2 linked regions of the Homo sapiens genome follow. The protein of the gene in region 1 purifies or fractionates together with the protein of each later gene. This does not show direct contact. Each region holds a gene or a part of one and is shown in the gene's direction. Other genes may lie near its edges.

Region 1 (4,097 bases):
ACAAAATGAGACCGCCTCTCTACAAAAACAAAAAGTTAAACTATGGTAATAAAATTACTCATACAGGAAATATTTTAGAGACCTATGGAGATGATTTTAAAGGAAGACACTTATGTATAAATTTAACTATATTGTATTTCCTTAAGTGATTGTAGAAACATTGCAATAGAAATAATGAATTTTGTGTTGGGCCTATCCTGATTTGCTATTTAATGATCAGGAAGGAGATCATAAGCTTCTGTGCTAAGGTTTGCTTATCTTTTCTACTTGGAAGGTTTTAGAGACTAAATCCTTATTGGTGTTTGGATGACTTCAGTGATGGGGATTTGTGTAAGGAATATGACACTTGTTTCCTGCTTTGTTGTTGGAAAACTGCATTCTTGTGACTTACATAATTGAGCTAAAAGTTTGATTTCTGTTTTCAATTGATTTTGCTCATACACTTTTAGACTGCAGAATCCGCAACGGTGAGAATGGAATACATTTTCTCCTAAACAGAGATGGGAAACGAAGGGGTGATGCCTTAATTGAAATGGAGTCAGAGCAGGATGTGCAGAAAGCCTTAGAGAAGCACCGCATGTACATGGGCCAGCGGTATGTGGAAGGTATGTGAAGTCAGATTATGGCTTTTTGGGATCATTGCATTAGGTTTTATACTTTTCAAGGTAGTTTTTATTTGATCCTTAATAATGAAGTATTTAGATTGTATGAATGCATTCTTTTATAGGATGTGAAAATAAAACATAAAGAGATAAAGTTTCTTTTTTTTGTGGGGGGGATGGAATCTCACTCTGTCACCCAGGCTGGAGTGCAGTGGTGCGATTTCAGCTCACTGCAACCTCTGCCTCCTGGGTTCAAGCAATTCTCCTGTCTCAGCCTCCCAAGTAGCTGGGACTACAGGCACATGCCATGATACCCAGCTAATTTTTGTATTTTTATTAGAGATGGGGTTTTACCATATTGGTCAGGCTGGTCTCAAACTCCTGACCTCAGGTAATCCACCCGCCTTGGCCTCCCAAAGTTCTGGGATTATAGGCGTGAGCCAGTGTGCCTGGCCAATGAAGTATCTTACAAGCTGTGAGAAATAAAGAAGTTATGCCCGCATGGTAAATATGCAATAAATGTCATTTGTTATTTTCTCTAGAGAAGCGCATAAAGATTAAAATAGTTATTGAATTCTCAGATAACCCAGCAAGTTGTAATGATTTTTTTTAATGGGTTTGTTCCTTTGTTATGTAAATTTTTCATCCCTGTTGGGTTTTTTCTTCGTAGTATATGAGATAAACAATGAAGATGTGGATGCCTTAATGAAGAGCTTGCAGGTCAAATCTTCGCCTGTGGTAAATGATGGTGTGGTTCGTTTGAGAGGACTTCCTTATAGTTGCAATGAGAAAGACATTGTAGACTTCTTTGCAGGTACTTTGCAGTTGTATTATGCTTGGGAGCTCATATCTTTTTTCCCTTGGTATCTCCTTCTATATCTTAGATGAGCCTGTTTCTGGGCAAAGGCATGCAGTTATATTAGGTTCTTTAGGGGAGAGCTCTTCACTTAAATTTCTAATATTTATAGATTTTATATGTGTTTTTGTTCTATCAGGCAGATTTTAGGAGGGAAGTCAGATTTCAGAATAATTTCATGAGGGTTTTACTATTGAAGGAAATAACTTCTCATAATAGTTGCTGTATTTGTGTAAGACAATAACAATTTATATAATTTAAAAGTATTTTCTAATTCCTAGAACCATTAGCAGTGAAGTCTGTGATTTCTATTGTTTCCTAGTATATAATTAACAGCAAAAAAAAAAAAAAAAACTGGTGGGGAGAATTGTATGTTTTGGGTGGGCTTCTTGGACCTTACCTATTCTGGAAATACAAGTATGTAGGTGTTGACTGACTTTTGACTGCATAATAATTTTCTTCCTGTCAAGCATGTATTCAGTTTTGGGACTGGCAAAACAGAATAAAAATTTTATTAGTATGTGAATGATGGTGTTAATTCTAAGGATAAAAAAGCCTGCTAGTAGCATTAAAATCTCTTGGTGTCCTAGGACTGAATATAGTTGACATTACTTTTGTGATGGACTATAGAGGGAGGCGAAAAACAGGGGAAGCCTATGTGCAATTTGAAGAACCAGAAATGGCCAACCAAGCCCTGTTGAAACACAGGGAAGAAATTGGTAATCGGTGAGTAAAGCAGATACTAATGATGCAGAAGTGTTACACATTAAGTCATTTTGATGAATGTGCTGTAATATGACTGAAAAGTTATCCAAACATAGAAAAGTAGAGAGAGTAGTGTAGTGAGCCATCAAATGCCCATAATTTAGATTAACAATTTTTTTTCGACTGCTCCTTTTTTTTTTTTTTGAGACAGAGTTTCACTCTTTTTGCCTAGGCTAGAGTGCAATGGCACGATCTTGGCTCACTGCAACCTCTGCCTCCCTGGTTTAAGCGATTCTCCTGCCTCAGCCTCCCAAGTAGCTGGGATTACAGGCGCCTGCCACCATGCCCGGCTTTTTTTGTATTTTTAGTAGAGACGGGGTTTCACCATGTTGGCCAGGGTGGTCTCGATCTCTCGACCTTGTGATCCGCCCGCCTCGGCCTCCCAAAGTGCTGGGATTACAGGCGTGAGCCACCGCATCCGGCTTGACTGCTCCTTGTGGGGCAGGGACTAACCCATAGACAGAGTACCTAGAGCAGCTAGATTAACACATTTATATATAAAATGTAACATCTGTTATATTTGCTTCATCTGGGTTTTTTTTAGTATGCATCTTTTAAAAAAATTTTTTTACATAATTTCAATGTTATATCTAACACTGTTAGCAATAGTATATTATCTAATAACAGTTCATAATAGCATTTTCCCAATTATACCAAAAATAGCCTTTTTTTTTTTGGCAACGGAGTTTCACTCTGCCGCCTAGGCTGGAGTGCGGTGGTGTGATCTTGGCTCACTGCATCCTCTCTCTGCCTCCCAGTTTCATGTGATCCTCCTGCCTCAGCCTCCTGAGTAGCTGGAACTAGAGGCATGCGCCACCATGCCCAGCTAAGTTTTGTATTTTTAGTAGAGACAAGGTTTTACCATGTTGGCCAGGCTGGTCTAGAACTCCCGGACTCAAGTCATTCACCCACCTCGGCCTCCAAAAGTGCTGGGATTACAGGTGTGAGCCAGCACACCGGACAAAAATACAGAATCCAGATAAGGTCTACACACTGCATTTGATTGTTATGTCCATAATTCTCTGTGTGTGTGTGTGTTTTTTTTTTTTTTTTAAGACACAGGGTCTTATTCTGTCACCCAGGCTGGAGTGCAGTGGCATGATGATAGCTCACTACAGCCTTGAATTCCTGGGCTCAAGCAATCGTCTCGCCTCATCCTCCCAACTAGCTAGAACAATAGGCATGTGCCGCCACACCTGGCTGTGTGTATGTGTGTGTGCGTGCGTGCGTGTGTGTTTGTAGGTGGGGTCTTGCTGTGTTGCCCTGGCTGGCCTCAAACTCATGGGCTCAAGTGATCGCCCGCTTTGGCTTCCCAAAACGCTAGGATTACAGGTGTGAGCCACTGCACCTGACCACTGATTCTCTTGAACTAGAGCAAATCCCCCTTACTTATTCTTCCCCCCTTTTTAAAAGCAATTGACTTTTGAAGAAATTAGATCAGTTGTCTTGTACAGTATCTCATGTTGACATCACCTCAGGATGCACATGATGATAAGTGGGTTCATTTGTGTTTTAACTTTAACTTTGGAGGTACAGTTTAAAATGTCAAATGTTAAATCACTGTTTCGTTAATTTTTTTTTTTACTGTTTTCTGGCCTTTTAAATCAGCTCCTTTGAAGTAAACAAAACAGCCATTCCAAAGCCAGTGTTTCAGGATCTACTGATAGAAGTGGTTCAAAGGTTTTTTGGTTTTTTGAGACAGGATCTTGCTCTGTCACCCAGGCTGAAGTGCAGTGCCACAAACACTGCTCATTTCAGCCTTGACCTTCTGGGCTCAAGCAGTCCTGCCATCTCAGCTTTCCTTGTAGCTGGTACCACAGGCATGCATCACCATGCCTGGCTAATTTTAGACAGAGTCTTATTCTGTTACCCTC
Region 2 (3,798 bases), on another chromosome or scaffold:
TACAATCTTGGCTCACTGCAGCCTCGACCTCCTGGGTTCAAGTGATCCTCCCATCTGAGCCTCTTGAGTAGCTGGGACCACAGGTGCATGCCACCACGCCCGGCTAATTTTTGTATTTTTTGTAGAGATGGGGTTTTGCCATGTTGCCCAGGCTGGTCTTGAACTCCTGGGCTCAACCTGTCTACCTGCCTCAGCCTCCCAAAGTGCTGGGATTACAGGCCTGTGCCACCGTGGCCAGTAGATAGCTTTTATTTTATTGTGTTGGGACTCTAGAAAATTTCTGCGTAAGTTAAATAAATACTTTCTTTGCATCTGGAAAGGGCTAATTCAATTTTCAAAGTTTACTTTATAATTGGGTTTATCTTATTTATTGAGGAAATATGGTGCGATAATAAAGAACAGAATAAATTGTTCATAATGAGTTTGCTCAGTTGTTTACTAAATCGATTATGGACTTCTGAAACTAATAAAATAGAAAGACCAATAATAAATGCATTAAACCTAGTTGCCGTCTTTTATTTATTTTGTAGATAATTACCTAATTGGTCTCTGCTCTCAAGAAATGTTTACTCTAGTGGGAGAGATGATTTATGGAATAGCCTCATGAAAACATACATATACTTGTGAAACAGCTACAGACTCCTACAAGACAATATATACTAAGGGTGATATGGCCAGATACTCTGGGAGGAGGGTAGGTCTTTAGGGTTGCCAGGGAAGAAGCTGTGGGATCTGCTCTGTGTTTTATCTTGTTTTATAGGCTTTGTGCCTTGGGCAAAGGGCAGCTTACTCCTGGAAGAGGACTGACTCAAGGACCCCAGAACCCCAAGAAACAGGGAATCTTCCACATTCATGAAGGCAAGCATGGTGTCTCTGTTTGATGCCTATGTGGTGAAAAACCTTGTTTTACTTTTATTTGAAAGGTATATAGAGTGATAGTTTAGAGCAAATGAGGCATATTAAAGGTAGATCTTTCATAAACATTTCATTGACAAAATGACCAGGATAGCTGCATAATATTAATAGCTTCAGATAGAAGTCACATTCAGATTTTGAACTATTGTTCCTGGGAGCCTTGAGGACTGAGCTCTTTTAGTTAGGTGATTTCCACTTCCTGTGTGTAGGTTCTGAAGGCATGGAAAAAAAGAGATGGGCCCATTAGTTGTATCAAGTAAACACTCCTAGTCCATAGTTATGTTCGAGGGATCCTGTTAGTCCATGCTTAATTAAAGTTAATTTCAATTACCAATATGATACGTAAACTATGGATTGTCTTTATTAAACTAGGAGTATTCGTTATAATTAAAATTGCGGCTTCTTTAAAGGGTCCAAATAAATTTATATTATGTGTGTATATAAATATATATGTAAGTAAAATTAAAAAGTTTTTCCTTCTTGGCCCTCAATACTTGCCTCTCTTCTTACACTGATTAAGCTAGTAGTAATTATTTTATGTCAGTGAGCATCAGTAGTCCATGTACTATTTGAGGTACTTTCTGTCCATTCTTTTTTTTTTTTTTTTTTTTTTTTTTTTTTGGGATGGAGTCTTGCTCTGTCACCCAGGCTGGAGTGCAGTGGCAGGATCTCGGCTCACTGCAACCTCTGCCTCCCTAGTAGCTAGGATTACAGGCATGCTCCACCACGCCCAACTAATTTTTGTATTTTTAGGAGAGATGGAGTTTCGCCACGTTGGCCAGGCTGGTCTTGAACTCCTGGCCTCAAGTAATCTGCCTGTCTTGGCCTCCCAAAGTGCTGGGATTACAGGTGTGAGCCTTTTTTTTTTTTTTTTTTTTTTGAGATGAAGTCTCACTCTGTCGCATAGGCTGGAGTGCAGTGGTGGGATCTTGGCTCACTGCAACCTCCGCCTCCCAGGTTCAAGTGATTCTCTGCCTCAGCCTCCTGAGTAGCTGGGATTACAGGTGCCCACCATGCCAGGCTAATCTTTGTATTTTTAGTAGAGACGGGGTTTCACCATCTTGGCCAGGCTGGTCTTGAACTCCTGACCTCATGATTCACCCACCTCGGCCCCATCCATTCTTTTATTCAAGGAACTTAGGAGGAAAAAATCAGAAATAAGACTAAGTTACTAATGGTTGTTGTTTGCAGTTCTCTAACATTTAGTTGTAATTATACATCAAATTTATGGTGTATCCAAAATTGTTTGATAGAAAAATCAACCATTTTTCATGAAAGTTAAAATGCATGTTCATATAAATTATATTTGGTTTTGATCAGTTAGTTATTGAAGGACTGAGGATTGCTATAGTTAATTTCCTATAACTGGAATGTATATTTTGAAGTGCTAGGAAAAACACATAAACTCAACACAGTATTTGAAATACTACAGATTTATCTTTTAGTTTTGAATTATTGCTGGTTCTCTAATTGATTTTCCCTTTATTCATATAGCATGTTCATCTATACATGTGAATCATGGTGTGTGTGGTAATTAGTATCAGCTTTTCTTTTAAGAGCTTAAATTTTGTAAGCACTAATATACGCTTGCACTTTTGGGCAGTGGCATTAACTAAAATTGCATTCTTTGCCTTAGCTTGATGTAAGTCTTTGCTTCATTTTTCTGGCTTAAACTTTTCTAACAACCAGGAGACTATAAATATATGAGAAATTAATTATAATGAGACTCAGATTTGGATATTAGTATTAGTCTCTGAACTAAGTAATTTGATCTATTACTGCGTATAAGAAGATAGGTGGGGGCCAGGCGCAGTGGCTCACACCTGTAATCCCAGCACTTTGGGAGGCCGAGGCAGGCGGATCACCTGAGGTCAGGAGTTCAAGACCAGCCTGACCAACATAGTGAAACCCCATCTCTACTAAAAATACAAAATTAGCAGGGCATGGTGATGCCTGCCTGCAATCCCAGCTACTCGGGAGGCTGAGGCAGGAGAATCACTTGAACCCGGGAGGCGGAGGTTGCAGTGAGCTGAGATCGTGCTATTGCACTCCAGGCTGGGCAACAAGAGCGAAACTCTGTCTCAAACAAAACAAAACAAAACAAAACTACAAAAATTAGCCGGGTGTGGTGGCACAGCGCCTGTAATCCCAGCTACTTGGGAGACTGAGGCAGGAGAATCGCCTGAACCCGGGAGGTGGAGGATGCAGTGAGCCGAGATTGTGCCACCGAACTCTAGCCTGGGTGACAGAGTGAGACCATCTCAAAAAAAACAACAAAAAAGAAGATAGGTGGGAATCCTGTTCATATCTCCATCATAATGGCTCTTACTGGCTAACACTGATACAGCCCCATTAAGTGAATAATTGAAGTTATCCTTTTTTGTTTGTTTATATAAACCCTAGTGATTGGCACAAAGGTATTCATTTGTGCACCTTTAAAGAGACAGTATAGTTCTTTCAGGTTTTTAGGGAGCAGAGGCTTGATCCTGTCCCTGAGCTGTTTGTTGTGGCATTAAATGGAAATCTATGGATCTTTAAATCTTTTGAGTGCATGAATTGCTTTTTGTAGTTCTTGAGCTCATTGCCATAATCCGTTTCTCATATTTCTTTGTTTCATGGAATGACCTCTTTATTTTTGTTTCAGTTCGAGATAAGTTGCGGGAGATAGTAGGAGCATCCACAAACTGGAGGTATGCATCTTTGTTTTCATTCATTCTTTTCATCCCCAAGGTATTATACTACACTGTATTTAGGCTCAGTTGATGGTCTCACAGTGGGGATGGGGAGCCCTATGTTCAGAGATAGGTTGAGAAGTATTTTGCTTGGGGGAGAAGGTCAACATTTCAACATACTCATCAGATGACACCTCATTGTCATGAAAGA

The links.
Region 2: the proteins of GRSF1 (region 1) and ACOT9 purify together in Homo sapiens (affinity purification with mass spectrometry, with the first as the bait; one study listed by BioGRID). This does not show direct contact.

Annotation. Positions count from the first base shown.
Region 1 is NC_000004.12:70,829,626-70,833,722, reverse strand, and holds part of GRSF1 (G-rich sequence factor 1), read left to right. Parts: intron 1-449; coding exon 450-605; intron 606-1,272; coding exon 1,273-1,416; intron 1,417-2,048; coding exon 2,049-2,184; intron 2,185-4,097. UniProt on the Homo sapiens protein: Regulator of post-transcriptional mitochondrial gene expression, required for assembly of the mitochondrial ribosome and for recruitment of mRNA and lncRNA. Binds RNAs containing the 14 base G-rich element.
Region 2 is NC_000023.11:23,732,979-23,736,776, reverse strand, and holds part of ACOT9 (acyl-coenzyme A thioesterase 9, mitochondrial isoform a precursor), read left to right. Parts: intron 1-760; coding exon 761-858; intron 859-2,409; coding exon 2,410-2,436; intron 2,437-3,559; coding exon 3,560-3,605; intron 3,606-3,798. UniProt on the Homo sapiens protein: Mitochondrial acyl-CoA thioesterase. Catalyzes the hydrolysis of acyl-CoAs into free fatty acids and coenzyme A (CoA), regulating their respective intracellular levels. Regulates both mitochondrial lipid and amino acid metabolism.